Homo sapiens: one gene and its partner. The protein of the gene in region 1 purifies or fractionates together with the protein of each later gene. This does not show direct contact. Each region holds a gene or a part of one and is shown in the gene's direction. Other genes may lie near its edges. The genes, in order: LIMK1 and MKI67.

Region 1 (15,689 bases):
GAGCACTCTTCATGCTAATTTGTTAAATCTTCATCATAACTCTATGAGGGACTGTATGTGCCCAGTTTGCATGGGAGAAACAGAGATTCCATGCAATCAAGTGCCTCGCTGAAGGTTGTAACATCTAGAGCTGGGACTAAAACCTTCTCACTCCACATCGCCACAGAGTAGGAAAGGCAGGGGCTGGCGGTGGCACATGCCTATAATCCCAGCCCTTTGGGAGGCGGAGGCAGGTGGATCTCTTGAGCCCAGGAGTTTGAGACCAGTGTGGGCAACATAGTGAAACCTTGTCTCTACAAAAAAATTAGCTGAGCATGGTGGTGGTGCCTGTAGTCCCAGCTACTCAAGGGCGCTGACATGGGAGGGTTGCTTGAGCCTGGGAGGTGGAGGTTGCAGTGAGCTATGATCACACCACTGCAAGCCAGCCTGGGTGACAGAGTGAAATCCCATCTCAAAAAAAAGAAAGAAAGGAAGAAAGAAAAAGACAGGGGCTTCGGGGAGGGCATGGGCACTGGCGAATGGCAGGGTGGAACCTGAAGCCATCTGGTTTTCTAACCTGGGCACTGGGGAGTTGGTGGTTTGTTGACTCTGATGGAATTGGGGGTCATGTTGGGGAGGAGACATGCTCATCTGTGTTGAGCTGGAGGGGACATGGGCTATCCATGGTGGCTGTGTCCTGCCCAGAGCTAGCCATGGGAGCCTGAGTCCAGTTGGAGGTAGGAAAGTCAGAAAAAACGGCCGCCTCGGAGCTGGCCCTGAGATGGTGAGTGGGATTTGTGATAGGGCCAAGACGAATGAAGGGAAGAACTTTGGGGACCCCTGTGTCTGCGGTGAGGGGGGAGATGGAGCCTTGGGTGATGGAGAGAGGGTCAGGAGTAGAGCCACAGAAGCCACAGGAGGGAAGCCGTGTTACAGGATGGGTGTACCTGGCTTTGGAGTGGCCTGTCCCAAATCACTCACCAGGAGAGGGGTGAGTCCCCAGGTCAGGGCAGTAAAGAGGAGGCATGTTTGTGCTGTCCCTGGTGTAGTGAAACTCAAGAAGGAAGCCAGGTGCAGTGGCTCACGCCTGTAATCCCAGCACTTTGGGAGGCCAAGGCAGGCAGATCACCTGAGGTCGGGAGTTTGAGACCAGTCTGGCCAACATGGTGAAACCCCATCTCTACTAAAAATACAAAAATTAGCCGGGCCTGTTGGTGGGCGCCTGTAATCCCAGCTACTCAGGAGGCTGAGGCAGAAGAATCGCTTGAACCCGAGAGGCAGTGATTGCAGTGAGTCAAGATCGCGCCACTGCACTCTAGCCTGGGTGACAGAGCAAGACTCCATCTCGAAAAAAAAAAGTCTCAATATGGGGAAAGATCCACTAGAAGTAAGAGCCATGGCTTCTACCTCGTGGCTTGTGGGTGTGATACTCCCAACAGTCCCCAAAGCTGGTGGTCCTCACCGCGTGACAGTGAGCAGAGCAGCTCAGAGGGGGTCACTGCTCACCTGGGTGCATGGCTGACCACAGCCAGGCTGGCTCTCAGTGGGATGCCCAAGGTGCTAGACTCTGCTTAGTCTCCCTCGGGCCCTGGGCTTGAGGCATTGGGCCCGGCCCAGACCTCATTTCATGCACTGAGACCTTTGTTCCAGGGCCCCTCACCCCTCTGAAGGTGTTCGGGCAGGGGCAATGTGATAAGGCCATGAGGGGTCTGCAGCCTCCAGCCCCACTGGGGAGGTGGCCAGTGATTTCCACTTTCCTGGCCCCTCTGCATGCCCCTCCCAGTGGAACTTCCTAGGGTCCCTGAGTCAGTCACTTGCAAATAATTATGGCGTGCCCACTCTGCATTAGGCCCCTCTCACAACAACCCAGTAAGGGGGTGCTATTTATTTATTAAAGCGATTTTTTTTTTGAGTCTCGCTCTGTCGCCCAGGCTGGAGTGCGGTGGCGCAATCTCGGCTTACTGCAAGCTCTGCCTCCCGGGTTCACACCATTCTCCTGCCTCAGCCTCCCAAGTAGCTGGGACTACAGGCGCCCACCACCACACCCGGCTAATTTTTTTTTGTTTGTTTGTATTTTTAGTACAGACGAGGTTTCGCTGTGTGAGCCAGGATGGTCTCGATCTCCTGACCTCGTGATCCGCCCACCTCAGCCTCCCAAAGTGCTGGGATTACAGGCGTGAGCCACCGTGCCCGGCAATATTAAAGCGATTTTAAGGCCAAGGCTGGTAACTCACGCCTGTAATCCCAGCACTTTGGGAGGCTGAGGCAGGAGGACTGCTTGAGGCCAGGAGTTTGAGATCAACCTAGGCAACATAGTGAGACTCCATCTCTACAAAAAAATTAGCCAGGCGTGGTGGTGCGTACCTGTAGTCCCAGCTACTCAGGAGGCTGAGATGGGAGGATCATTTGAACCCAGGATGTCGAAGCTGCAGTGAGCTGTGATCACGCCACTGCACTCTGGCCTGGGCAACAGAGCGAGACACTGTCTCAAATTTTTAAAAAGCGATTTTACAAATGAGGTGCAGAGTTCAGTCACTTGCCAAAAGTCTCACAGCGCGTGAGGAGTAGAATCAGGACTCGAACCGAGGCAGCCTGGCTTCAGAGCCTACAGTGTAACCACAGCTTAGTCCCACACCTCCCAGACCAACAGGGTCCCTGCCTTCTAGTGGGCAAGACACTCAGTGAACAAATGTAGTGTCAGGTATTGGGGGACAGCACTCTCAGGAAGTGATGTTTAAGGGACAGAATTGAAGGGAGCAGTGTTTAGAGGATGTCGGGGGTAGGGCCGGTGCATGTGCAAAGGCCTTGGGGTGGGAATGTGCTTGGCACAACTGAGGACCACAAAGCCAGCGTGCGGGAGTGCAGTCAGTGGCCAGGGGTGCATAGAGCCTTGTGGGCCCCGTGGAAGGTGCCGTTGGCTGTACAGCTTTTTTTTTTTTTTTTTTTTTTTTTTTTTGAGACAGAGTCTCGCTTTTGTTGCCCAGGCTGGAGTGCAGTGGCGTGATCTCAGCTCACTGCAACCTCCGCCTCCCGGGTTCAAGCGATTCTCCTGCCTCAGCTTCCTGGTAGCTGGGACTACAGGCGCCCACCACCACACCTGGCTAATTTTTGTGTTTTTAATAGAGACGGGGTTTCACCATGTTAGCCAGGCTGGCCTCAAACTCCTGACCTCAAGCGATCTGTCTACCTCAGCCTCCCAAAGTGCTGGGGTTACAGGCATGAGCCACTGCGCACAGGCAGCTGTGCATCTTTGAATGTCATAACCTGAGCATCTGAGAGCTGCTCCTGTCCCCTGGCCCCTGCTCTTGAGGAAGTCCCACGCTGATAGGACAGACAGGGTCATAAGTGCTGTGATGGGGGCCTGCAGGCTGCTGGAGGGCTCAGCCGGGACCAGATGCTGCCCCTCTTTGTAGAGTGGGACAATTGCTGCAGGCCCATGGGACCTCTGGTATTAGCCCTGAGGGTTGTCACTCCGGGGCCTGCCCCTTTCTGTGTTCTGACCTCCCAGCCCCTTGCAGGCCCTGCCTCCCGGAAGGTTATGACCAGGCTTGGACTGGTCCAGGCTTCCCTTTGGCTCACATACTGCCTCTGCGAGGTCCCCTCCAGGAAGCCTCCTGTGCACAACCCCCAGGGCTGCCGCATCCCTGGTAGCATCTCCTTGGCAGCTGGGTGGGCTGGCCCTGGGCAAGGAGGGCTGAGCATGCTGCTGGCCTGTGGGGTTGGAGCAGCGGCGGGATGCAACCTCCCTTTCTTCAGGGGACCTTTTTGGCGAAGACAAACTGTCCATAGGAAGTCGACCTCTGTTCCCTTGGGGGCAGCAGTGGAAGAGGCAGCTGCTTTTGAGCTTGTCCCTGTCCCCAGAGAAGCCTGAGGCCTTCAGTGCCGTTGCCAGGGCCGAGGCTGAGGAGCCTACAGCGTGTGTTCAGGACTGAGGGCCAGGGACGGGCCACAGGCTCCCTGCCTGGGGTCCAAGCCTAGATCGCTCGCTCCCCACCCGCACCAAAGCCCAGGCAAAGGGTGCTTCAGCCACTTCCTGTTGCAGGCTCAGACCAAGTCCCCTGGCACCCACGCGGCTGCAGCCTCCTCCTGTGCGCTGCAGCCACGCTGGCCCCACCCTCTGCAGCCTCCAATCCTGAGCCCCTGAGGGAGGATGGGGAAGCAGCTGGTCTGGCCACCCCTGCCCTCCCTTAGACCTCCAGAGCCCCCAGTGTAGCCACAGAGGATGCTGTTGGCTTCAGCCCCAAGAAGACGCCGCTTCCTCCAGAGGGCTAAGTAAGTGGGAATCCCCCTCCCTACTTGTCCTGGGCTCCAGGCAGGGCCCCTGGTGTAAGGCCTGGGGCTGGAAGCCGACCCACCTAGGTCCAGGCTCTGGGGCAGAACTGAAACTCCTTGGTTACTGTCGGCTGCAGCCTGGGAGCAGGCCACTGCCAAAGCTGTGGGTCCTTCCAGGACAGTCTCCCCATGAGGCCGGTCCTCCACCTGCTGTTTCTTCACACCTGGTGGCCAGGGATGTGGCCCTGGGTAGAACGATGATTCTCCACTCCTGTCATTATGGAAGCCACCGCTGTCTCCCAGCCCAGCCAGCCACCTGGGCTGCAGAGCACCCCTTTCATGCCCTCCGGGTGCCTCCCCCTTCTCCTGCCCCAGCCTGGCTTTGTCCTACCCTGCTCTCAGGGAGGGGTACCCTGGAGTGGGGCCAGGGCATGGCTCTCCCCCGAGGGAGTTCCTCTCTGGCTGTCCCCAGGGCAGCTCTGCACAGCCTCAGTACCTGGCGCACCTCCCTTGACATCCTTCTTAGGGACAGTCAGGCACTCTGTGTGGGGCACTCAAGAGAGCCAGGCCCGTCAGCCTCTAGCTCCTGCCAGAATGCAGGCCTGAGGGGTGAGGGGCGGGGCAGGGGCAGGGACAGGAACTCCGGCGTGCTCTCCATCCGCAAAGGTTCACTGAGGCCCCGAGCCCCAGCCACTGAGCCACCAAGTCAGCCTGGGCCAGGCCTGGGTGCCCTGTCTGCAATGGAGGCAGAGACGGGGTCTCGGGGCAGTTCTGAGGATGCTGGGTGCACAGCGGGGGCCTCGCCGGCAGGAATCACTTATGCTCTCTCCTGGGCCAAGCTTTGTGGATGCCCAGCCTGGGGCCGCGGGGAGCTGGCAGGTCAGTGGCAGACACTGGTGGGCAGACCTAGTGTCTGGTAGAACAGGCATCAAGGAAGTGGTGACCGGAGGGAAGCCAAGTGCACTCAAACCCTCGGGTGAGTCATCACCGCCGGGTCTTTCACAGCTGCTGAAAGTGAGCAACAGTGATGAAGGTTTGTGAGTTTCTGCGTGAGCGAGTGAATGGACCAGTAGCAGTTTCCAGGTTGTGGAAGAGCGTTCCCTCCCCGGGATGGGGACACTTGGTTACAGCAATTCCTAATCCCCCACCCACCCACCGCCCACTGCAGAGGTATGCGGGGGCCCTGCTTCCTGCAGGCAGGAGTGAGGGGCACTCCTGTGATGTGGCACCCCTGTGACCGAGGTCATGTGTGATCGGTGTAAGGGCAGGAAGCGAGTCATTGGTCTGCACCAGGCGTGGGGGCTTCTGCGAGGGCAGGACCCAAAGTCGGCCTGGCCTCCCGGCTGCAGCACTCCTTTCCCTTTCGAATTAGGTTAGAGCCCTGGGACGGGAGGTGCCCTGTAGACCACCCCCCTCACCAACTTCCGTCCTCCGCCCCACCCCCGCGGTGATCCGGTGAACTGCCGGCCCCCTGCTGTGCACCGAGTGGGGCAGTGACCCTGACGTGGCGTCTCCTGCCGCCCCTGCCACCGCCACCACCTCCGGTGGCCCAGCCTCCGCATTCCCCACCCCCATGGAGGAATGCACCAGGCCTCCCTTCCTGGATGCACCCCTCACCCACATGCTTCCAAACCCTGGCATTTTCTGCTCCCCCTTTACTCCCACCCCTTCCCCTAGGCTCCCAGACAAAGGGGAAGTGGCTGGATCCTCTTAAAGGGACAGTGTCCCACCAGCTTACTGCTGAACTCCCCTCCTCAACCCCAGTTCCCTAGTTACAGTTAATTAGCATTAGCAGACAGCCCATGAGTGATACCCATGCAGGCCCCAGGCTGTGGAGAGTTTCCTGGGTAGGAAACAGCCCTTAAGGTCCCTCATCTCATCCAGGTCCCAGTCTTTCCTACCTGCCTCTCTCCTAGATTGTGGCCCTTTGGAGCCTGGTTCTTCTGTCCCTGTGTGACCGACACATAGCACCCAAACAGTGGCAGAGCGGGACGGACCCCCTAGCCTGTTCTCTGTGTGGGTCTGTACCCTGACCCAGACATGCCCCCCCACAGCAGGACCCAGGGGGGCACATGTGTGCCTGCGGGTTCACTGGGGCACCCGCATTTGGTTTATTTTATTTTTTAGAGAGAGGGTCTTGCTGTGTCACCCAGCTGGAGTGCAGTGGTGTAATCATAGCACACTGCAGCCTTCAACTCCTGGGCTCAAGCGATCCTCCCTCCCCAGCCTCCCTAGTAGCTGGGAGTACAGGACCCACTGTATCCTGGCTAATTTTTTAATAATTTTTTAAGAGATGGGGTCTTACTGTGTTGCCCAGGCTGGCCTCAAACCTCTGGCCTCAAGTGATCCTCCCACCTTCGCCTCCTGAAGTGCTGAGATTACAGGCATGAGCCACCATGCCCATCCCAGACTGACATTTCTATATTTGTTCATCCTGGCTGGGCAGGGCTGCTGGTCCCCACCCCACCGGGATGCTTGGCTGGGAAAAAGCCGGGAATGTAGGTCTAACCCTGGCCTGTGTTGTGGCACCTACAGCCTGGCATTCCTCCCCATCTGCCCTTCAAGGCCCCACCAACCAGGCCTCCTTGGTAGCCTCTAGTGAGGAAACAGGCGAACCGTGGCTTTGATGACCCTGCACACCTGGGGATTCTCCTCTATTTTTCTTTTTCTTTTTTTTTTTTTTGGAGACAGAGTCTCACTCTGTCGCCAGGCTGGAGTGCAGTGGCACAATTTTGGCTCACTGCAACCTCTGCCTCCCAGGTTCAAGCGATTCTTCTGCCTCAGCCTCCCGAGTAGCTGGGATTACAGGTGCCCACCACCATGCCTGGCTAGTTTTTGTATTTTTAGTGGAGACTGGGTTTTGCCATGTTGGCCAGGCTGGTCTCAGACTCCTGACCCCAAGTGATCTGCCCACCTCGGCCTCCCAAAGTGCTGGGATTACAGGTGTGAGCCACCGCTTTGGGAGGCCGAGGTGGGCGGATCACGAGGTCAAGAGCTCAAGACCATCCTGGCCAAGATGGTGAAACCCCATCTCTACTAAAAATACAAAAAATTAGCTGGGCATGGTGGTGTGTGCCTGTAGTCCCAGCTACTCAGGAGGCTGAGGCAGGAGGATCACTTGAACCTGGAAGGCAGAGGTTGCAGTGAGCCGAGATCGAGCCACTGCACTGCAGCCTGGCGACAGAGCAAGACTCCGTCTCAAAAAACAAACAAAAAGAAAACTTGTTCTAATTCTTACAAAGGTGCCTGTAGCCGAGGCAGGGGCCCAGGTGAGGTGGAGGAGGGCGGGAGTGGACGTCTCAGCCCGGCCCCTCTCCTGCAGGTGTTGTGACTGCAGTGCCTCCCTGTCGCACCAGTACTATGAGAAGGATGGGCAGCTCTTCTGCAAGAAGGACTACTGGGCCCGCTATGGCGAGTCCTGCCATGGGTGCTCTGAGCAAATCACCAAGGGACTGGTTATGGTGAGCGCCCCCTGCCTTGCACACTCACCTGGGGTGGGGGTATCCAAGCAGACCCCATGCTCCAGGTCTCTCTCCCATCATTGTCTCTCCTGGTCTCCTTTTTGCTGGTCTTTGGAGCTGCTTTCTGAGCCTGACTGTCTGTCTGTATCCCTCAGCGCCCCCATCTATGGAGCCAGCTCTGTCCAGGAGCTCAGCAGCTGGCCAGCCGGGTCCCTGCAGTTGTTTTTTTGGTGACACCCTTGGAAGAGGCCTAGGGGAGGATCTGTGGGGGTTGTTGGGTCTGCTGAGCTGGGCTGTTCCCTCCTCACCCCCGCACCAGGTGGCTGGGGAGCTGAAGTACCACCCCGAGTGTTTCATCTGCCTCACGTGTGGGACCTTTATCGGTGACGGGGACACCTACACGCTGGTGGAGCACTCCAAGCTGTACTGGTGAGTGCCTTGGCCCCTCCCTGAGCCTAGGAGGCCCACCTGTGTCACAGATCTGCAAGGGTGCTGACTCTCCCACACCCGGGCCTCCTGCCCTTTCCCATGGGGTGAGGTTTGTTGGGGCAAATGTTCATATCTCCTTTCCCATCCCGGCATGGAAACAAGTGAGAAATAACACACAGAAGTCAGTGTGAAAAAGCCTCAGACGGCCAGGCATGCTGGCTCACGCCTGTAAACCCAGCACTTTGGGATTCCGAGGTGGGTGGATCCCTTGAGGCTAGGAGTTCAAGACCAGCCTGGCCAACATGGTGGAACCCCATCTCTATTAAAAATACAAAAATTAACCAGGTGTGGTGGCGGGTGCCTGTAATCCCAGCTACTCAGGAGGCTGAGGCAGGAGACTCTCTTGAACCTGGGAGGTGGAAGTTGCAGTGAGCCAAGATTGCACCACTGCCCTCCAGCCTAGGCAACAGAGCAAGACTCTGTCTCAAAACAGAAAACCTCAGACGTCAGCTTTCTTACTGGCCATGACTGCAGCATGGTGCTGGCACAAACCACCAGAGGTGGGGTGGATGCCACAAGTTAAGGACACCATCCCCAGCATAACTGCTCCCTCTTTAGACACCAGCCACAAGTTCAGGGGTCCCCAACCCACTCACACTTCTGACCGACTGGCTACAAATTCAGGGACTCCCAAGACCCTGCCAAGTTTGATCGTTTGCTAACAGACTCACAGAACTCAGGAAATCCTCCATTTTTATCCCAGTTTTATTATGAAGGACACAGCTCAGGTCCGACCAAATGAAGAAGCATCTCCCCTCCCTCCCCTAGCACATCAATGTGATCACCAACCAGGAAGCTTCACTGAGCTTCAGCAGCCAGAGTTTTTATTGGGATTTCATTACATCGTCATGACTGATTGAGTCATTGGCCGTATGATCAAGCTTAGTCTCTAGCCCCCGTTCTTGGAGGTCAGGCTGGATGAAAGCTGCAACCCTCTTCAAATCACATGATGTATCTTTGCGGGGCTGAGTCATCTCATTAGTATCAACTCAGGAATAGTCTGAGGGGCTCATGAATAACAAAGATACCCCATTCCAAGGACTTAGAGTCTCCCTCCCAGGAATCAGGACAAAACCCAGACAGATTCTTTCTTATACAACACTGATCAAGCTGGATTAGAGGACAACGTGGCTTGATCCCAGATGGGCTTTTAATGACTTCCTCCTGAACTGGATTTATCCTCAGGCCTTGTCCTGGCCGCCTTACAGGATCACAGCGAGTAGACAGACCCGAATGACTCAGAGGGACGAGGGCTGGCTGGGCACGCACAGTTCCTGCTCCCAGTTCCATAGGAAGAGTGAAAGAAAAGAAAGCTGGCCAGGTGCAGTGGCTCACCCCTATAATCCCAGCACTTTGGGAGGCCAAGGCAGGCAGATCACCTGAGGTCTGGAGTTTGAGGCCAGCCTGGCCAACATGGTGAAACCGTCTCTACTAAAAATAAGAAATTAGCCAGGCATGGTGGTGCGTGCCCGTAATCCCAGCTACTCAGGAGGCTGAGGCAGGAGAATCGCTTGAACCCAGGAGGCGGAGGTTACAGTGAGCCAAGATCACACCACTGCACTTTTGGACAATTGCTAGCTTTCCTTTTCTTTTGAGACAGAGTCTTGCTTTGTCACCCAGGCTGGGGTGCAGTGTTGTAATCAACAGAGTGAGACTCCATCTCAAAAAAAAAAAAAAAAAAGGAAGGGATTGGGGGAAGAGCCTGGGGCTGGGGGCTGCAGAGATGCTGAAATTGATGACGCCCTTGACACTCTTTTCTTCCCACCCCGGCGGCTCTTGCAGCGGGCACTGCTACTACCAGACTGTGGTGACCCCCGTCATCGAGCAGATCCTGCCTGACTCCCCTGGCTCCCACCTGCCCCACACCGTCACCCTGGTGTCCATCCCAGCCTCATCTCATGGCAAGCGTGGACTTTCAGTCTCCATTGACCCCCCGCACGGCCCACCGGGCTGTGGCACCGAGCACTCACACACCGTCCGCGTCCAGGGGTGAGTGGCCGGCCTGCCGAGGCTGCCGTCGGTGTGGCTATGGCTGTTGATGTGGGTGGCAGAGTCTGGCACTGGGGGCCCTGAAAATGAATGGGCGAGTGTTTGGGTACAGATGGGGCCCAGTTCTGACAACCTGGTTTGCCAGATTTCTGGCCCAGTCATTCCTCTGAATACCATTACAAATGCCAGATACAATAAAAAGACATTTTCAACCGGGCATGGTGGCCCACACCTGTAATCTCAGCACTTCGGGAGGCCGAAGTGGGTGGATCACCTGAGGTCAGGAGTTCGAGACCAGCCTGGGCAATGTGGTGAAACCCCGTCTCTACTAAAAATACAAACGTAGCCAGGCATGGTAGTGTGTGCCTATAGTGCCAGCTGCTTGGGAGGCTGAGGCAGGAGAATCACTTGAACCCAGGAGGTGGAGGTTTCAGTGAGCCCCGACTGCCATTGCACTCCAGGCTGGGCAACAAGAGTGTAACTCTGTATCAAAAAAATAAAAATAAAAAAAACACACTCAAAAAATAAAAAGACATTTTCTTTAGTCCATGTCTGATCCAACAAGAAAGAGGAGGAACCAAGTCAAGAATGAGTGAAGAAGCTGGGCGCAGTAACTCACACCTGTAATCTCAGCACTTTGGGAGGCCAAAGTGAGAGGATCACTTAAGGCCAGAAGTTTGAGACCAGCTTGGGCAACATAGCGAGACCTGCATGTCTACAAAAAAAAAAAAAAAATTAAAAATTAGCCAGGCATGGTGAAATCACTGAACACATAAAGGCTGGGCATGGTTGCTCACACTTATAATCGAAACACTTTGGGAGGCTGAGATGGGAGGATCACTTGAGGCCAGGAGTTCGAAACCAGCCTGGGAAACATTGTAGTCACAGCTACTTGGGAGGCTGAGGCAGAAGGATCTCTTGAGCCCAGGAAGTGGCTACAGTGAGCTATAATTGCACGACTGCACTCTAGGCTGGGCAATGGAGCAAAACCCTGTCTCAAAAAAATGGGGCAGGGCTGATAAAGATTAGATTACTGTGTGACTTTGAGCAGCTGCTTTCTCTCTAGGCTTTGGGGGTCTGTTTGAACAATGAGGGAGTTGGATACCTTGGAGCTTTCTAAGATTTCTGTGGCGCCTTTATTGACACCTTGAGAAGTAGCATGCAGTGTTTCTACTTTTGGGCAATTGGTCACTTCTTTTTTTTTGAGACAGTCTCACTCTGTCGCCCAGTCTGGGGTGCAGTGGTGTGATACCAGCTCACTGCAACCTCCACCCACAAGGTTCAAGCAATTCTTGCACCTCAGCCCCCTGAGTAGCTGGGACTACAGGTGACCACATGTGGCTAATTTTTGTATTTTTAGTAAAGACAGGGTTTCACCATGTTGGCCAGGCTCGTTTCAAACTCCTGGGCTCAAGTGATCCTCCCTTCTCGGCCTCCCAAAGTGCCGGGATTACAGGTGTGAGCCACCGTGCCCGGCCCAAGTGCTAGCTTTCTCTCTCTCTTTTTTTTTTTTTCGAGACGGAGTCTCGCTCTGTCGCCCAGGCTGGAGTGCAGTGGTGTGGTCTCGGCTCACTGCAAGCCCCGCCTCCTGGGTTCACGCCATTCTCCTGCCTCAGCCTCCCGAGTAGCTGGGACTACAGGCACCTGCCACCATGCCCGGCTAATTTTTTTTTTATATTTAGTAGAGACAGGGTTTCACCATATTAGGCAGGATGGTCTCGATCTCCTGACCTCGTGATCCGCCCGTCTCGGCCTCCCAAAGTGCTGCGATTACAGGCATGAGCCACCACGCCCGGCCCTACCAAGTGCTAGCTTTCATTTGACGCAGTGAATGTTTCTTGTACACCTGGCAGGTGCCTGGCACTGCATAGGCACTGTTGAGATGTGAAGGTGGCCCTGGGGACAGAAAATTATACTGGGCTTGACTGTGTGTCTCCATCCCTTGACATCAGCCAAGCCAGCAGCTGCTTTACATACATGATGAGCAGACAGCTGCTTGAAAGAGATGAGGAAACTCCCAGACCAACGGCTCTTACCAGAGGGCCAAGGGAGGTCCCCACAGAGTCAGAGGCTGCAGCTGGTCCCTGAAATCCAGGCAGAATTTTAGAAATGAAGACAGTCAGCTGGGTGCAGCGGCTCATGCCTGTTATCTCAGCCACTTCGGAGGGCTGAGGTGAGAGGATTGCTTGAGCCCAGGAGGTGGAGGCTGCAGCAAGCTATGATGACACCATGCATTCCAGCTTGGGCGACAGAGCGAGACCCTATCTCTAAAATAAAAATGAAGAAGACAGTTAATGACGTCTCCTCCCTGTCTGCCTCACTGGGTAAGCATTCGCCCAGCCAACATCTGGAACATCCCAGTTCTGCAAAGAGCCACACCCTTCCCAGAAAGAGCCCAACTTGCCAAAGATTTACTTATTTGTTTTAAACTGGTTTTAGTTGACCGCTTTTCATTTTGTGTATAGCAGCGTTTTAAGGAAGGTCTAATTTATCCAGGCCACCTGCTGCTTTAGCAAACCAAGGGAGAGGATGTGAGATTCTAAGGAATTTACATATGTATGTCATATATATATATATATATATATAGACACACAATTTTTTTTTGAGACAGGGTCTTGCTCTGTCATACAGGCTGGAGTGCAGTGGCACAATCATAGCTCACTATAGCCTCAGATGCCTGTGCTCAAGCAATCCACTCACCTCGGCCTCCTGAGTAGTGAGACTACAGGCACACACCACCACACCCAGCTAATTTTTTAATTTTTTGTAGAGACTGAGTCTTGCTGTGTCGCCCAGGCTAGTCTTGAACTCCTGGGCTCAAGCAATCCTCCCACATTGGCTTCCCAAAGTGCTAGGATTACAAGCGTGAGCCACTATGCCTGGCTTATTTTTAAGGTTATATGCATGCAAAGCCTGTATCAATGAAAATATTTTCTTTGGTTTTTTTCAACTTTTCATCTTCGCATTTTGCAGATTTATAGAAAATTTGCTAAAATAATAAGTCCATTGAATACATACACACCCTTCACCAAGGTTCACCAATTCGTAACTGCCATATTTGGGAGTTATATGTGTGTCTCTCTATATATACATATATGGATACAGATACATATACATGTTTAGTGACTTGTTTATATTTGTACATACATGTACATGTTGTTATTTATTGATCGTTTGGGAGTAAGTTGCAGGGATCATTGACTCCCCCACAATTATGCTAGATATTCTCAAAAGAAGGACCTTCTCTTTTTTTTTTTTTTTTTTGGAGACAGGGTATCACTGTCATTGAGGCTGGAGTGCAGTGATGCGATCACAGCTCACTGCAGCCTCAACCTCCCAGGCTCAAGTGATCCTCCCACCTCTGCCTCCCAAGTAGCTGGGACTACAGGCACGGGCCACCACGCCTGGCTAGGCATTCTGTTATGTAATTATCAATTGTATCTTATAGTTCAGTGATCACATTTTGGAAATGTAACATTGATACCATTATCTAATACACAGACCATATTCAAATTTTGCCTATTGTCTCTATACTGAACTACTGAGCTGTCCTTTATAGCAATCTCCCCCTCATCCACAGTCCAGTCCATGATCAACATTGCATTTAATCGTCATGTGTCATCAGTATCTTTTTTTTTTTTTTTTTTGAGACGGAATTTTGCTCTTGTTGCCCAGGTTGGAGCGCAATGGCGCAATCTTGGCTTATTGCAACCTCCGCCTTTGGGCTTAAGTGATTCTCCTGCCTCAGCCTCCTAAGTAGCTGAGATTACAGGCGTGCACCATTATGCATGCCTAATTTTTGTATTTTTATTAGAGACGGGGTTTTACCATGTTGCCCTGGCTGGTCTTGAACTCCTGACCTCAAATGATCCACCCACCTCAGCCTCCCAAAATGCTGGGTTTACAGGCATGAGCCACTGCGTCTGGCCATTTCCTCAGCCTTTCATTGCCCTTCATGATCTTGACATTTTTGAAGTGTACAGGCCAGTCATTAAAGTAAAATGTTTTTCCTTTTTTTTTTTTTTTTTTTTAAAAAGAGACAGGGTCTCACTGTGTTGCCCAGGCTGGTCTCAGACTCCTAGGCTCAAGTGATCCTCCCGCCTCAGCTTCCCAAAGTGCTGGGATTACAGGCGTGAGCCATCGTACCTGCCCTCGCATTTGGGTTTGACTGATGTTTCCTCTTAGGGAGACAGGCTCTGCAGGTTTGGCCTGATACTGCATAAGTGATCCTCTGTCCTTCCGAGTGGATCTTGCCAGGAGACATATGATGTCAGTGTGCCCTTTGCTGAGGATGTTCACTTTGATTACTTGTTTTTTCTGTACTGTAAGGATTTTTTTCCCTTTGTCATCAATAAACCATTTGTGAGATTTGAGTCTGTAAATATCCTGTTCCCAAAAACCCTTCCCCAAATGATTTGAGCATCTATTGATGATTCTTGCCTGTAGCGATTATTACTAGGGTGGCTACCAAATGCTGAATTTCTAACTCTGTTCTTCCTTCTGCATTTGTTACTGTAAGGAAGAGCTTCTCCCCCATACGAGAATAGTCTTTTTGTTTGCTTGGTTGTTTTTTTGAGATAGGGTCTCACTCTGTTGCCCAGGCTGGAGTGCAGTGACATGATCATAGCTCACTGCAGCCTCGACCTCATGGGCTCAAGCGATCCTCCTGCCTCAGCCTCTCGAGTAGCTGGGACTACAGGCAGCACCACCATGCCTGGCTAATTTTTTATTTTTTGTAATGGTGAGGTCTCACTATTTTGCTCAGGCTGGTCTCGAACTCCTGACCTCAAGTGATCTTCCCACCTCAGCCTCCCAAATAGCTGGGATTACAGGAGTGTGCCACCATGCTCAGCTAATTTTCTGTAAAAAATGTCATAGAGATGGGGTCTTGCTATGCTGCCCAGGCTGGTCTCAAACCCCTAGTCTCAAGCAATCCTCCCACCTTGGCCTCCCAAAGTGCTGGGATTCCAGGCATGAGCCACCACACCTGGCCCTGTTTTTCTTAAAGTTCTCAGTCTCCTCTCTGCCTTACCCCCATCCCCTTTTCCATCTCCAGGACCTAGGGCAGAGACAAAGTGAGCATTCCCTAAAAAGCTTTTATGAGGCAAAATGAAAACCAGCTCACGCCTATAATCCCAGCACTTTGGGAGGCCAAGGTGGGTGGATTACCTGAGGTCAGGAGTTCAAGACCAGCCTGACCAACATAGAGAAACCCCATCTGTACTAAAAATACAAAATTAGCCAGGCATGGTGGCACATGCCTGTAATCCCAGCTACTCAGGAGCCTGAGGCAAGAGAATCACTTGAACCTGGGAGGCGGAAGTTGCAATGAGCCGAGATCACTCCATTGCACTCCAGCCTGGGCAACAAGAGCAAAACTCTGTCTCAAAAAAAAAAAAGAAAAGAAAAGAAAACCAGGTCCCTAACACCGAAGAGTTAAAAGAAATAAGTAAATTTGGCAAATTGGTCTTTTTGTGAGTTAGCTTATAGGCAACTGAT
Region 2 (15,689 bases), on another chromosome or scaffold:
ACTAATAGAATGTTTTTATTGTGTATGTTTTTATTTCAGGAGGAAATGTGTTCTTCAGTGCACAGAATGCAGCAAAACAGCCATCTGATAAATGCTCTGCAAGCCCTCCCTTAAGACGGCAGTGTATTAGAGAAAATGGAAACGTAGCAAAAACGCCCAGGAACACCTACAAAATGACTTCTCTGGAGACAAAAACTTCAGATACTGAGACAGAGCCTTCAAAAACAGTATCCACTGCAAACAGGTCAGGAAGGTCTACAGAGTTCAGGAATATACAGAAGCTACCTGTGGAAAGTAAGAGTGAAGAAACAAATACAGAAATTGTTGAGTGCATCCTAAAAAGAGGTCAGAAGGCAACACTACTACAACAAAGGAGAGAAGGAGAGATGAAGGAAATAGAAAGACCTTTTGAGACATATAAGGAAAATATTGAATTAAAAGAAAACGATGAAAAGATGAAAGCAATGAAGAGATCAAGAACTTGGGGGCAGAAATGTGCACCAATGTCTGACCTGACAGACCTCAAGAGCTTGCCTGATACAGAACTCATGAAAGACACGGCACGTGGCCAGAATCTCCTCCAAACCCAAGATCATGCCAAGGCACCAAAGAGTGAGAAAGGCAAAATCACTAAAATGCCCTGCCAGTCATTACAACCAGAACCAATAAACACCCCAACACACACAAAACAACAGTTGAAGGCATCCCTGGGGAAAGTAGGTGTGAAAGAAGAGCTCCTAGCAGTCGGCAAGTTCACACGGACGTCAGGGGAGACCACGCACACGCACAGAGAGCCAGCAGGAGATGGCAAGAGCATCAGAACGTTTAAGGAGTCTCCAAAGCAGATCCTGGACCCAGCAGCCCGTGTAACTGGAATGAAGAAGTGGCCAAGAACGCCTAAGGAAGAGGCCCAGTCACTAGAAGACCTGGCTGGCTTCAAAGAGCTCTTCCAGACACCAGGTCCCTCTGAGGAATCAATGACTGATGAGAAAACTACCAAAATAGCCTGCAAATCTCCACCACCAGAATCAGTGGACACTCCAACAAGCACAAAGCAATGGCCTAAGAGAAGTCTCAGGAAAGCAGATGTAGAGGAAGAATTCTTAGCACTCAGGAAACTAACACCATCAGCAGGGAAAGCCATGCTTACGCCCAAACCAGCAGGAGGTGATGAGAAAGACATTAAAGCATTTATGGGAACTCCAGTGCAGAAACTGGACCTGGCAGGAACTTTACCTGGCAGCAAAAGACAGCTACAGACTCCTAAGGAAAAGGCCCAGGCTCTAGAAGACCTGGCTGGCTTTAAAGAGCTCTTCCAGACTCCTGGTCACACCGAGGAATTAGTGGCTGCTGGTAAAACCACTAAAATACCCTGCGACTCTCCACAGTCAGACCCAGTGGACACCCCAACAAGCACAAAGCAACGACCCAAGAGAAGTATCAGGAAAGCAGATGTAGAGGGAGAACTCTTAGCGTGCAGGAATCTAATGCCATCAGCAGGCAAAGCCATGCACACGCCTAAACCATCAGTAGGTGAAGAGAAAGACATCATCATATTTGTGGGAACTCCAGTGCAGAAACTGGACCTGACAGAGAACTTAACCGGCAGCAAGAGACGGCCACAAACTCCTAAGGAAGAGGCCCAGGCTCTGGAAGACCTGACTGGCTTTAAAGAGCTCTTCCAGACCCCTGGTCATACTGAAGAAGCAGTGGCTGCTGGCAAAACTACTAAAATGCCCTGCGAATCTTCTCCACCAGAATCAGCAGACACCCCAACAAGCACAAGAAGGCAGCCCAAGACACCTTTGGAGAAAAGGGACGTACAGAAGGAGCTCTCAGCCCTGAAGAAGCTCACACAGACATCAGGGGAAACCACACACACAGATAAAGTACCAGGAGGTGAGGATAAAAGCATCAACGCGTTTAGGGAAACTGCAAAACAGAAACTGGACCCAGCAGCAAGTGTAACTGGTAGCAAGAGGCACCCAAAAACTAAGGAAAAGGCCCAACCCCTAGAAGACCTGGCTGGCTTGAAAGAGCTCTTCCAGACACCAGTATGCACTGACAAGCCCACGACTCACGAGAAAACTACCAAAATAGCCTGCAGATCACAACCAGACCCAGTGGACACACCAACAAGCTCCAAGCCACAGTCCAAGAGAAGTCTCAGGAAAGTGGACGTAGAAGAAGAATTCTTCGCACTCAGGAAACGAACACCATCAGCAGGCAAAGCCATGCACACACCCAAACCAGCAGTAAGTGGTGAGAAAAACATCTACGCATTTATGGGAACTCCAGTGCAGAAACTGGACCTGACAGAGAACTTAACTGGCAGCAAGAGACGGCTACAAACTCCTAAGGAAAAGGCCCAGGCTCTAGAAGACCTGGCTGGCTTTAAAGAGCTCTTCCAGACACGAGGTCACACTGAGGAATCAATGACTAACGATAAAACTGCCAAAGTAGCCTGCAAATCTTCACAACCAGACCCAGACAAAAACCCAGCAAGCTCCAAGCGACGGCTCAAGACATCCCTGGGGAAAGTGGGCGTGAAAGAAGAGCTCCTAGCAGTTGGCAAGCTCACACAGACATCAGGAGAGACTACACACACACACACAGAGCCAACAGGAGATGGTAAGAGCATGAAAGCATTTATGGAGTCTCCAAAGCAGATCTTAGACTCAGCAGCAAGTCTAACTGGCAGCAAGAGGCAGCTGAGAACTCCTAAGGGAAAGTCTGAAGTCCCTGAAGACCTGGCCGGCTTCATCGAGCTCTTCCAGACACCAAGTCACACTAAGGAATCAATGACTAACGAAAAAACTACCAAAGTATCCTACAGAGCTTCACAGCCAGACCTAGTGGACACCCCAACAAGCTCCAAGCCACAGCCCAAGAGAAGTCTCAGGAAAGCAGACACTGAAGAAGAATTTTTAGCATTTAGGAAACAAACGCCATCAGCAGGCAAAGCCATGCACACACCCAAACCAGCAGTAGGTGAAGAGAAAGACATCAACACGTTTTTGGGAACTCCAGTGCAGAAACTGGACCAGCCAGGAAATTTACCTGGCAGCAATAGACGGCTACAAACTCGTAAGGAAAAGGCCCAGGCTCTAGAAGAACTGACTGGCTTCAGAGAGCTTTTCCAGACACCATGCACTGATAACCCCACGACTGATGAGAAAACTACCAAAAAAATACTCTGCAAATCTCCGCAATCAGACCCAGCGGACACCCCAACAAACACAAAGCAACGGCCCAAGAGAAGCCTCAAGAAAGCAGACGTAGAGGAAGAATTTTTAGCATTCAGGAAACTAACACCATCAGCAGGCAAAGCCATGCACACGCCTAAAGCAGCAGTAGGTGAAGAGAAAGACATCAACACATTTGTGGGGACTCCAGTGGAGAAACTGGACCTGCTAGGAAATTTACCTGGCAGCAAGAGACGGCCACAAACTCCTAAAGAAAAGGCCAAGGCTCTAGAAGATCTGGCTGGCTTCAAAGAGCTCTTCCAGACACCAGGTCACACTGAGGAATCAATGACCGATGACAAAATCACAGAAGTATCCTGCAAATCTCCACAACCAGACCCAGTCAAAACCCCAACAAGCTCCAAGCAACGACTCAAGATATCCTTGGGGAAAGTAGGTGTGAAAGAAGAGGTCCTACCAGTCGGCAAGCTCACACAGACGTCAGGGAAGACCACACAGACACACAGAGAGACAGCAGGAGATGGAAAGAGCATCAAAGCGTTTAAGGAATCTGCAAAGCAGATGCTGGACCCAGCAAACTATGGAACTGGGATGGAGAGGTGGCCAAGAACACCTAAGGAAGAGGCCCAATCACTAGAAGACCTGGCCGGCTTCAAAGAGCTCTTCCAGACACCAGACCACACTGAGGAATCAACAACTGATGACAAAACTACCAAAATAGCCTGCAAATCTCCACCACCAGAATCAATGGACACTCCAACAAGCACAAGGAGGCGGCCCAAAACACCTTTGGGGAAAAGGGATATAGTGGAAGAGCTCTCAGCCCTGAAGCAGCTCACACAGACCACACACACAGACAAAGTACCAGGAGATGAGGATAAAGGCATCAACGTGTTCAGGGAAACTGCAAAACAGAAACTGGACCCAGCAGCAAGTGTAACTGGTAGCAAGAGGCAGCCAAGAACTCCTAAGGGAAAAGCCCAACCCCTAGAAGACTTGGCTGGCTTGAAAGAGCTCTTCCAGACACCAATATGCACTGACAAGCCCACGACTCATGAGAAAACTACCAAAATAGCCTGCAGATCTCCACAACCAGACCCAGTGGGTACCCCAACAATCTTCAAGCCACAGTCCAAGAGAAGTCTCAGGAAAGCAGACGTAGAGGAAGAATCCTTAGCACTCAGGAAACGAACACCATCAGTAGGGAAAGCTATGGACACACCCAAACCAGCAGGAGGTGATGAGAAAGACATGAAAGCATTTATGGGAACTCCAGTGCAGAAATTGGACCTGCCAGGAAATTTACCTGGCAGCAAAAGATGGCCACAAACTCCTAAGGAAAAGGCCCAGGCTCTAGAAGACCTGGCTGGCTTCAAAGAGCTCTTCCAGACACCAGGCACTGACAAGCCCACGACTGATGAGAAAACTACCAAAATAGCCTGCAAATCTCCACAACCAGACCCAGTGGACACCCCAGCAAGCACAAAGCAACGGCCCAAGAGAAACCTCAGGAAAGCAGACGTAGAGGAAGAATTTTTAGCACTCAGGAAACGAACACCATCAGCAGGCAAAGCCATGGACACACCAAAACCAGCAGTAAGTGATGAGAAAAATATCAACACATTTGTGGAAACTCCAGTGCAGAAACTGGACCTGCTAGGAAATTTACCTGGCAGCAAGAGACAGCCACAGACTCCTAAGGAAAAGGCTGAGGCTCTAGAGGACCTGGTTGGCTTCAAAGAACTCTTCCAGACACCAGGTCACACTGAGGAATCAATGACTGATGACAAAATCACAGAAGTATCCTGTAAATCTCCACAGCCAGAGTCATTCAAAACCTCAAGAAGCTCCAAGCAAAGGCTCAAGATACCCCTGGTGAAAGTGGACATGAAAGAAGAGCCCCTAGCAGTCAGCAAGCTCACACGGACATCAGGGGAGACTACGCAAACACACACAGAGCCAACAGGAGATAGTAAGAGCATCAAAGCGTTTAAGGAGTCTCCAAAGCAGATCCTGGACCCAGCAGCAAGTGTAACTGGTAGCAGGAGGCAGCTGAGAACTCGTAAGGAAAAGGCCCGTGCTCTAGAAGACCTGGTTGACTTCAAAGAGCTCTTCTCAGCACCAGGTCACACTGAAGAGTCAATGACTATTGACAAAAACACAAAAATTCCCTGCAAATCTCCCCCACCAGAACTAACAGACACTGCCACGAGCACAAAGAGATGCCCCAAGACACGTCCCAGGAAAGAAGTAAAAGAGGAGCTCTCAGCAGTTGAGAGGCTCACGCAAACATCAGGGCAAAGCACACACACACACAAAGAACCAGCAAGCGGTGATGAGGGCATCAAAGTATTGAAGCAACGTGCAAAGAAGAAACCAAACCCAGTAGAAGAGGAACCCAGCAGGAGAAGGCCAAGAGCACCTAAGGAAAAGGCCCAACCCCTGGAAGACCTGGCCGGCTTCACAGAGCTCTCTGAAACATCAGGTCACACTCAGGAATCACTGACTGCTGGCAAAGCCACTAAAATACCCTGCGAATCTCCCCCACTAGAAGTGGTAGACACCACAGCAAGCACAAAGAGGCATCTCAGGACACGTGTGCAGAAGGTACAAGTAAAAGAAGAGCCTTCAGCAGTCAAGTTCACACAAACATCAGGGGAAACCACGGATGCAGACAAAGAACCAGCAGGTGAAGATAAAGGCATCAAAGCATTGAAGGAATCTGCAAAACAGACACCGGCTCCAGCAGCAAGTGTAACTGGCAGCAGGAGACGGCCAAGAGCACCCAGGGAAAGTGCCCAAGCCATAGAAGACCTAGCTGGCTTCAAAGACCCAGCAGCAGGTCACACTGAAGAATCAATGACTGATGACAAAACCACTAAAATACCCTGCAAATCATCACCAGAACTAGAAGACACCGCAACAAGCTCAAAGAGACGGCCCAGGACACGTGCCCAGAAAGTAGAAGTGAAGGAGGAGCTGTTAGCAGTTGGCAAGCTCACACAAACCTCAGGGGAGACCACGCACACCGACAAAGAGCCGGTAGGTGAGGGCAAAGGCACGAAAGCATTTAAGCAACCTGCAAAGCGGAAGCTGGACGCAGAAGATGTAATTGGCAGCAGGAGACAGCCAAGAGCACCTAAGGAAAAGGCCCAACCCCTGGAAGATCTGGCCAGCTTCCAAGAGCTCTCTCAAACACCAGGCCACACTGAGGAACTGGCAAATGGTGCTGCTGATAGCTTTACAAGCGCTCCAAAGCAAACACCTGACAGTGGAAAACCTCTAAAAATATCCAGAAGAGTTCTTCGGGCCCCTAAAGTAGAACCCGTGGGAGACGTGGTAAGCACCAGAGACCCTGTAAAATCACAAAGCAAAAGCAACACTTCCCTGCCCCCACTGCCCTTCAAGAGGGGAGGTGGCAAAGATGGAAGCGTCACGGGAACCAAGAGGCTGCGCTGCATGCCAGCACCAGAGGAAATTGTGGAGGAGCTGCCAGCCAGCAAGAAGCAGAGGGTTGCTCCCAGGGCAAGAGGCAAATCATCCGAACCCGTGGTCATCATGAAGAGAAGTTTGAGGACTTCTGCAAAAAGAATTGAACCTGCGGAAGAGCTGAACAGCAACGACATGAAAACCAACAAAGAGGAACACAAATTACAAGACTCGGTCCCTGAAAATAAGGTGAGAGGAAGTATTACAGCATCACTCAATATCGTCTTGGATAGTTGTGAATTTCTGTGTTATACTTTGCATGTAACCTGACGTTATAAGTGGTTATCCTTTCCCCAGAGGGTTTCCTTTAACACTGAATAACTGCAGGCCATGGTAAAGAATCTTCTTGGGACCTATAGAGGGAATAGACTAATATGGGAAAAGAACTAGTCAAACATGATTAATGCAAACTTAGAAGAGTTTCTCAAAAGCCAAATGAGTAATGTTCATCTTCAAATGTTTAAAAAATTGATCAGAGGATAGGTGGGTGGTTCAGTTCTATGTTCTGGATACTGTCACCAAGACCAGGACTGGGTTAAAAATCCTATCTATGTCACTATTTTAACTATCAGAACAATATCAATAAGGAATGTGTATTCTTGAGAAGGGGAAACTGTCTGGACTGTTAGATAGAGAGGCTCCCACTGCATGCAGAGAAGTTTGGGGAAACTCCAGAAATGGCAATTTCCTGTTCTGCCTTAGCAGTGATGGTTAAAGGAATAGGAATTCATTTACTCCCTGTAAATGAATGAATAACGGACCTTCTTTCTATAATGTAAACTGTAAAAATTAGATTTGATATATATCTTATTAGGCATTGTTATTGAAATTTATCCTGAATTCCTTATTTATAATTTGTCAGCAGAGACAGTCATTTCTCCATAGGAGCAAAGTACCAAGGCATTACCTTGACTATCCTAGATGACAAGTCTCTTAGACAATTCATCAGTGTGTGATTTTCAAATGATTTCTCCTTTTAGGTTACTGTTGATTGTGCTCCCTGTTGAATTTTGAAGTTTGTTTTACTAATTATTGGAATTTTGTGGATGTCTTCTCATTTCTTTAGGGAATATCCCTGCGCTCCAGACGCCAAAATAAGACTGAGGCAGAACAGCAAATAACTGAGGTCTTTGTATTAGCAGAAAGAATAGAAATAAACAGAAATGAAAAGAAGCCCATGAAGACCTCCCCAGAGATGGACATTCAGAATCCAGATGATGGAGCCCGGAAACCCATACCTAGAGACAAAGTCACTGAGAACAAAAGGTGCTTGAGGTCTGCTAGACAGAATGAGAGCTCCCAGCCTAAGGTGGCAGAGGAGAGCGGAGGGCAGAAGAGTGCGAAGGTTCTCATGCAGAATCAGAAAGGGAAAGGAGAAGCAGGAAATTCAGACTCCATGTGCCTGAGATCAAGAAAGACAAAAAGCCAGCCTGCAGCAAGCACTTTGGAGAGCAAATCTGTGCAGAGAGTAACGCGGAGTGTCAAGAGGTGTGCAGAAAATCCAAAGAAGGTAAGCCATTTACTGTTTCCCTGTTTTAAAAGACACAGAATGTTTTGATGTATTTTTTGCCCAAGGTTGCAAAGGCAAACAAAAAGCATTATCTTCAACAGCACTCTGCCAGCTCCCAGTTACATTAATGGAAGGAGCATTATGCTAAGACATAAATTTGGTCATTTTAGTTATATTTTGTTGTGTCTACTTTGGGAATTTCACTTCAAATAGCAAATTCACGTTATGAAGACTTTCTTCAGAAAGAAAAGGAATTTGTCTAGTGGCTAATTTCTGACTGCTTATGATGTACCTCATGATACAATTGTAGGTAGATGTCTTCAGCCTTTCTGTAGTTCAAAATCACCTCTTGAAACAGGAAAATTCTTTTTCCAAAAAAAACTATTGAAACAGAAAAATTTCCAAGGCATTCTTTGGAAAGGCAGAAGGAACAGAAGTTGGGATGTCCCTGAGACACATGCTCACTATGTGAGAGTTCCTGGTCAGTGGGGGATGCGTCTGCCCTCCAACCCTCCTCCAGCCAGAGACTATCTAAGCTAATGAACTTTAAGTGCTACTGAAATCACATCAAGTTGAGCCACTCATAATTACAAGCATGTGGACAAATCCATAAGAATGATTAGATTCCATTAGTGTTCTTCTGGGGAATACTTGGTTTAGCTAAAATAAAAATAGGTTGAATTGCTCCCTTTTTGTGAGCAATTCACAAAAATATAATATAAATTTAATTCTTAGCACACACAAAATTTGGACCTAAAACTACCATATTCTGAGTTCAGCAAACGAAACTCATGTAGCAATAACCTCTTCAGATACAGAATTCTGGCAAGTACAGCTGTCCAGACAGACCCTCTTCGGCACAAACTAGGAAGCTTCAACTGCCAAGAAAAGGAAAGATTCCCAGGTGTCCCCAGTACCTGCTGCATAGCCAGGCAGCCAGTGGAGGGGGAGGGCTTGTGTGTCTGGATGGTGGGCAGGAAGTCCTAGTGGGGAGATGCCCATAGACTGTTCCAGAGAGGGAAGAGGAGAGGCTCAAGAAGGGCACTGATGCCCACACAGGTGTCCTAAGTCAGAGACTGTACTTCTGGGGCAGGCTGGAAGCAGAAGACACCCGACAGTGCCAGACAAGGTCCTAGAAACCACAGGCACACCAGGGACGCAACAGCTGACGTGGGTCAGCACGTTCACCCGTCGAGTCTTACAATAAAACGCAGGCTCCAGGCGCTTACCGAATTCACAGTCTGGAAGGTGCTGCTTCCTCAGAATGAAACCAAAGAAGGGTGAAAGCGAATCTTTTAACTAGGATGATTCCTAAACACAGAGCAACCAGGCCCAAGGCTGAGCCAGGCCTGGTGTGTTCTGCCGGGGGCGTTCCAGCCTCTTCTCACACACAAGCACCCAGGAGACGCCCAACACACACATGCTCCTCTTTGCCGAGCTCTTCGGTGGGTGTCGGTAGTCCTAGAAAATGCATATATAAGATAGATTTTTTCCAGTAAGAAGCTTGTAGCCATGCTTTTCACCATGGTTCCTCTCCCTTAGCCAAGGGGTGAGAACTACTGCAAGAGTAAAGGCCAAGGCAGGTCTCCTGCATGCAAGTTGGGCATGCTTCTGTCTACAGGGGTTCCTTGGTTTAGGAGACCCAAAAGACTTAATCCTGGTTGGATTCACTTTTTCTGAGTGACATTTTTTAGTTTGTGAAAATGTGTGCATCGATGAAGAAATTTTATTATGAATTAGCTTAAAAATGCATTAGGAACTTCTGTATGAAAAGATCACATTATTTAAGTGTAAAAAAACTGCATAATAAAAGCAGTTCAAGTCAAGAAAAACAATGTTAATGGAATATATTTTAAAACTTATTTCCAACCTCAAAATTAATTTTCTGCAACTAAGGACCTGCATAATACCTAGTAAGCCTTTGGGGTTTTGCAGAGGAGGTCGATTCTAAAAATGGGTGTTTAAATTACTTAAGAGTTCTATTTTTTTTCTTCCCACACAGGCTGAGGACAATGTGTGTGTCAAGAAAATAAGAACCAGAAGTCATAGGGACAGTGAAGATATTTGACAGAAAAATCGAACTGGGAAAAATATAATAAAGTTAGTTTTGTGATAAGTTCTAGTGCAGTTTTTGTCATAAATTACAAGTGAATTCTGTAAGTAAGGCTGTCAGTCTGCTTAAGGGAAGAAAACTTTGGATTTGCTGGGTCTGAATCGGCTTCATAAACTCCACTGGGAGCACTGCTGGGCTCCTGGACTGAGAATAGTTGAACACCGGGGGCTTTGTGAAGGAGTCTGGGCCAAGGTTTGCCCTCAGCTTTGCAGAATGAAGCCTTGAGGTCTGTCACCACCCACAGCCACCCTACAGCAGCCTTAACTGTGACACTTGCCACACTGTGTCGTCGTTTGTTTGCCTATGTCCTCCAGGGCACGGTGGCAGGAACAACTATCCTCGTCTGTCCCAACACTGAGCAGGCACTCGGTAAACACGAATGAATGGATGAGCGCACGGATGAATGGAGCTTACAAGATCTGTCTTTCCAATGGCCGGGGGCATTTGGTCCCCAAATTAAGGCTATTGGACATCTGCACAGGACAGTCCTATTTTTGATGTCCTTTCCTTTCTGAAAATAAAGTTTTGTGCTTTGGAGAATGACTCGTGAGCACATCTTTAGGGACCAAGAGTGACTTTCTGTAAGGAGTGACTCGTGGCTTGCCTTGGTCTCTTGGGAATACTTTTCTAACTAGGGTTGCTCTCACCTGAGACATTCTCCACCCGCGGAATCTCAGGGTCCCAGGCTGTGGGCCATCACGACCTCAAACTGGCTCCTAATCTCCAGCTTTCCTGTCATTGAAAGCTTCGGAAGTTTACTGGCTCTGCTCCCGCCTGTTTTCTTTCTGACTCTATCTGGCAGCCCGATGCCACCCAGTACAGGAAGTGACACCAGTACTCTGTAAAGCATCATCATCCTTGGAGAGACTGAGCACTCAGCACCTTCAGCCACGATTTCAGGATCGCTTCCTTGTGAGCCGCTGCCTCCGAAATCTCCTTTGAAGCCCAGACATCTTTCTCCAGCTTCAGACTTGTAGATATAACTCGTTCATCTTCATTTACTTTCCACTTTGCCCCCTGTCCTCTCTGTGTTCCCCAAATCAGAGAATAGCCCGCCATCCCCCAGGTCACCTGTCTGGATTCCTCCCCATTCACCCACCTTGCCAGGTGCAGGTGAGGATGGTGCACCAGACAGGGTAGCTGTCCCCCAAAATGTGCCCTGTGCGGGCAGTGCCCTGTCTCCACGTTTGTTTCCCCAGTGTCTGGCGGGGAGCCAGGTGACATCATAAATACTTGCTGAATGAATGCAGAAATCAGCGGTACTGACTTGTACTATATTGGCTGCCATGATAGGGTTCTCACAGCGTCATCCATGATCGTAAGGGAGAATGACATTCTGCTTGAGGGAGGGAATAGAAAGGGGCAGGGAGGGGACATCTGAGGGCTTCACAGGGCTGCAAAGGGTACAGGGATTGCACCAGGGCAGAACAGGGGAGGGTGTTCAAGGAAGAGTGGCTCTTAGCAGAGGCACTTTGGAAGGTGTGAGGCATAAATGCTTCCTTCTACGTAGGCCAACCTCAAAACTTTCAGTAGGAATGTTGCTATGATCAAGTTGTTCTAACACTTTAGACTTAGTAGTAATTATGAACCTCACATAGAAAAATTTCATCCAGCCATATGCCTGTGGAGTGGAATATTCTGTTTAGTAGAAAAATCCTTTAGAGTTCAGCTCTAACCAGAAATCTTGCTGAAGTATGTCAGCACCTTTTCTCACCCTGGTAAGTACAGTATTTCAAGAGCACGCTAAGGGTGGTTTTCATTTTACAGGGCTGTTGATGATGGGTTAAAAATGTTCATTTAAGGGCTACCCCCGTGTTTAATAGATGAACACCACTTCTACACAACCCTCCTTGGTACTGGGGGAGGGAGAGATCTGACAAATACTGCCCATTCCCCTAGGCTGACTGGATTTGAGAACAAATACCCACCCATTTCCACCATGGTATGGTAACTTCTCTGAGCTTCAGTTTCCAAGTGAATTTCCATGTAATAGGACATTCCCATTAAATACAAGCTGTTTTTACTTTTTCGCCTCCCAGGGCCTGTGGGATCTGGTCCCCCAGCCTCTCTTGGGCTTTCTTACACTAACTCTGTACCTACCATCTCCTGCCTCCCTTAGGCAGGCACCTCCAACCACCACACACTCCCTGCTGTTTTCCCTGCCTGGAACTTTCCCTCCTGCCCCACCAAGATCATTTCATCCAGTCCTGAGCTCAGCTTAAGGGAGGCTTCTTGCCTGTGGGTTCCCTCACCCCCATGCCTGTCCTCCAGGCTGGGGCAGGTTCTTAGTTTGCCTGGAATTGTTCTGTACCTCTTTGTAGCACGTAGTGTTGTGGAAACTAAGCCACTAATTGAGTTTCTGGCTCCCCTCCTGGGGTTGTAAGTTTTGTTCATTCATGAGGGCCGACTGCATTTCCTGGTTACTCTATCCCAGTGACCAGCCACAGGAGATGTCCAATAAAGTATGTGATGAAATGGTCTTAAAACCCATGGTATTTTTATTATAGGGAGAGTGGGGAAAGAAACTAAGTGTGGGTGGGGCAGACAGGCCAGTGTAAGAGAGACTGGTTCATTACGTTCCATTTTCATTTCTACAAGGACTTGGCTGGATGGTCATTTTCTCTCTTGGCCAATAAGTCATCGCAGCTGCTTTTAGTCCTGCAGGAATGGCCTGCTGTATCTCGAGAACTACCTGCAACCGCAGCTGTGCCTGCTTTGTTGCAACAGAGGTGCTGAGTTGAGGGATGGGGATTTGACCCAGGGCTGCCCCAAGTCAGCAGATGAAAATACATGCCCTGACTTTCCTCTGGCAACCCTGATTTGACATGGATCCCGGGAGTGAATTTGCTGGCAAGTTCCAGGGGCAGTAGCCTGCGGTAGGTCAGTTAGTCCTGAAGAAGAGGCCTTTCTGTCGGAGAGAAAAGTTTGCAGGTGGGTGCATCTACCATCTTGAGAGGCTGAGGAGGGAGGGAGAGCCGTGCTCGGTGGTCAGTCTGGTGAAGGAAGTGGGTTCAGTCTGCAGCCCACATCCTGGGCTGTCATCAAGAATTAACATGGCAAACGGCGACTCCATAAAGTAAACTGTAGCTACTTAACTAAATGATTTCGTGTGGCTGAGATCCTACTGTTTGCTGGGTTTCCTGGAAAAGTCCTCTAGATGAACTGCAGGAATCTCCTGGCACTCTGGTTACAGCTGGAGAAACTGATTTCTGTGCTGTCCAGGTGCTCCCAGACCCCCAAGGCATCTCCAGGACACAGTCACCAAACCCCCATCCTGGTATTACTGGCATTGAGTGCCACGTAGGCACACAGCACTCCATAATTTGGAAATGTGGATTTCATTGCTATTGCTCTTCATGAGGGAACAAATAATACCCATGATGTATTGGCAGGAAGCCACGCCCCCCCTCCCCCGCTGCCACCCCCACAGCGCGCACAGTGATTTCAGGAAGGAGGTTTGATTGGTTTGTTGTGTGTTGCCCTGCAAGGGCCCCAATCAGCTTCCTGCTCATCAGCCCCATCTCAGGCAAGTCCCACATCTGTGATGTCAAGCCCTGAGCCGGGTAATTGGACTTGGATACCTGCTTGACTCATCTTTCCAGTGAGGTTCCTAAGGAGCATCCCCAACCCCACCTCCCAGGGGGAGCTCTCGATGTCACCTGAAGAACAAACAAACAAAAACTGTGTTGATGGTACAGTCCCAGGGCTCCGTGACTGGACAGGCTCCCTGCGTGATACACCTGTGTATGTCACTACAGAAATACAGCTGGTGCAGGCCTGTCCGCCTCTCTCACAGGTCAGAGTGTTCTAAAATCCATCCTGGCCCTTGTTGTCTGTCTGCTTGGGGTTAGGGCAGGTGCTCCTTTATCATTTGTAAAGTTTATGTGATGTCTGGTATGTGTTCCACACCCTTGCAGAGTGTAAATTCCTAGAGAGAGTTCAGACTTCGGAGTCAAATGCACAGGTGCAAATTCCAGCTTGTCTAATTTGCTGCTGTGTGAACGTGGACAGTCTTTCAACTTTGCTAGTTTCCCATCTGTAAAATGAGGCTGTTCAGTACCTGAGCACATAGCATTGTTGAGAAGATTAAATGAGACAATATGTGTAAAACACTTAGCATTTTACCCAGAGCTTGGTAAGCATCAATACATGCTAATTATCATCATCATCAGAAGATGAATATATTTATTAGATGCCTAAAACTCCAAGATATTTCCCTTGGCTCATAAATTCTTTATCACTAGGGATTTCTCTATGGAAGTGAAGGAAGAATCTGGAACGTAACAGGCCTGAATAACCAGGGGCAGTGGCTCACACCTGTAATCCCAGCACATTGGGAGGCCAAGGCTGGAGGATCGCTTGAGGCCAGGAGTTCAAGATCAGCCTGGGCAACATAGCGAGACCCCATCTCTACAAAAAAAAAAAAAAAAGAAAAAAGAAAAGAAAAAATTAGCGGGCATTGTGGCACATACCTGTAGTCCCAGCTACTTGGGAGGCTGATGTGGGAGGACTGCTTGAGCTCAGGAGTTCAAGGCTGCAGTGAGCTATGATTGTATCACTGCACTCCAGCTTGGTCAACAGAGCAAGACCCTGTCTCAAAAAAGAAAAATAAAAATCCTGAATAATATGTCTATGTCTTCATCGAGCCCACGTATTGAAAACTACCCAAACCACCAACAATGCAAAGAAACATTATTTAACTAAGAGTCGAGTAACCAAATTTCAGGGTTATCCAAACTGAATATGGCCTCTGCAGGAGAAAAGAATATGTGTGATGTGGCAGCCACAATCTGATACCATATTAACACTGTCTTTTATTTTTTTTTTTTTGAGACGGTCTCACTCTGTTGCACAGGTTGGAGTGTAGTGGCACAATCTTGGCTCACTGCAACCTCTGCCTTCAAGGTTCAAGAGATTCTCCTGCCTCAGCCTCTGAGGAGCTGGGATTACAGGCATGCACCACACATACCTGGCTAATATTTGTAATTTTTTTTTTAGGAGAGACAGGGTTTCACCATGTTGGCCAGGCTGGTCTCAAACTCCAGACCTCAGGTGATCCAGCCACCTTGGCCTCCCAAAGTGTTGAGATTACAGGCGTGAGCCACCATGCCCAGTCAACAGTGTCTTTAAATGACATCAGATCGCAGAACTTTGCTGAGCTTGGCCCAGACACAGGTCTGGCTAAAACAGGTGGTGCTGGGACCAGGCATGGCCAGGACATAGGGAAGCACATCCCTGCATAGAAAAGGTTCTGTGGATTTTAATCCAGGTCAGCAATTAGCAAACTTTTTCTGTCAAGGACCAGGCAGTAAATATGGCGGCTTCGTGGGCCATACTGTCTGTTATGCTGACTCACCTCTGCTGTTAAAGA

The links.
Region 2: the proteins of LIMK1 (region 1) and MKI67 purify together in Homo sapiens (affinity purification with mass spectrometry; 2 studies listed by BioGRID and IntAct, with this or other methods). This does not show direct contact.

Annotation. Positions count from the first base shown.
Region 1 is NC_000007.14:74,089,049-74,104,737, forward strand, and holds part of LIMK1 (LIM domain kinase 1), read left to right. Parts: intron 1-4,168; exon of another isoform or gene 4,169-4,201; coding exon of another isoform or gene 4,202-4,251; intron 4,252-7,573; coding exon 7,574-7,712; intron 7,713-8,031; coding exon 8,032-8,141; intron 8,142-9,983; coding exon 9,984-10,190; intron 10,191-15,689. UniProt on the Homo sapiens protein: Serine/threonine-protein kinase that plays an essential role in the regulation of actin filament dynamics. Acts downstream of several Rho family GTPase signal transduction pathways.
Region 2 is NC_000010.11:128,093,774-128,109,462, reverse strand, and holds the end of MKI67 (proliferation marker protein Ki-67), read left to right. Parts: intron 1-39; coding exon 40-6,884; intron 6,885-7,761; coding exon 7,762-8,205; intron 8,206-10,207; coding exon 10,208-10,273; 3' UTR 10,274-12,804; downstream 12,805-15,689. UniProt on the Homo sapiens protein: Protein that associates with the surface of mitotic chromosomes and acts both as a chromosome repellent during early mitosis and chromosome attractant during late mitosis.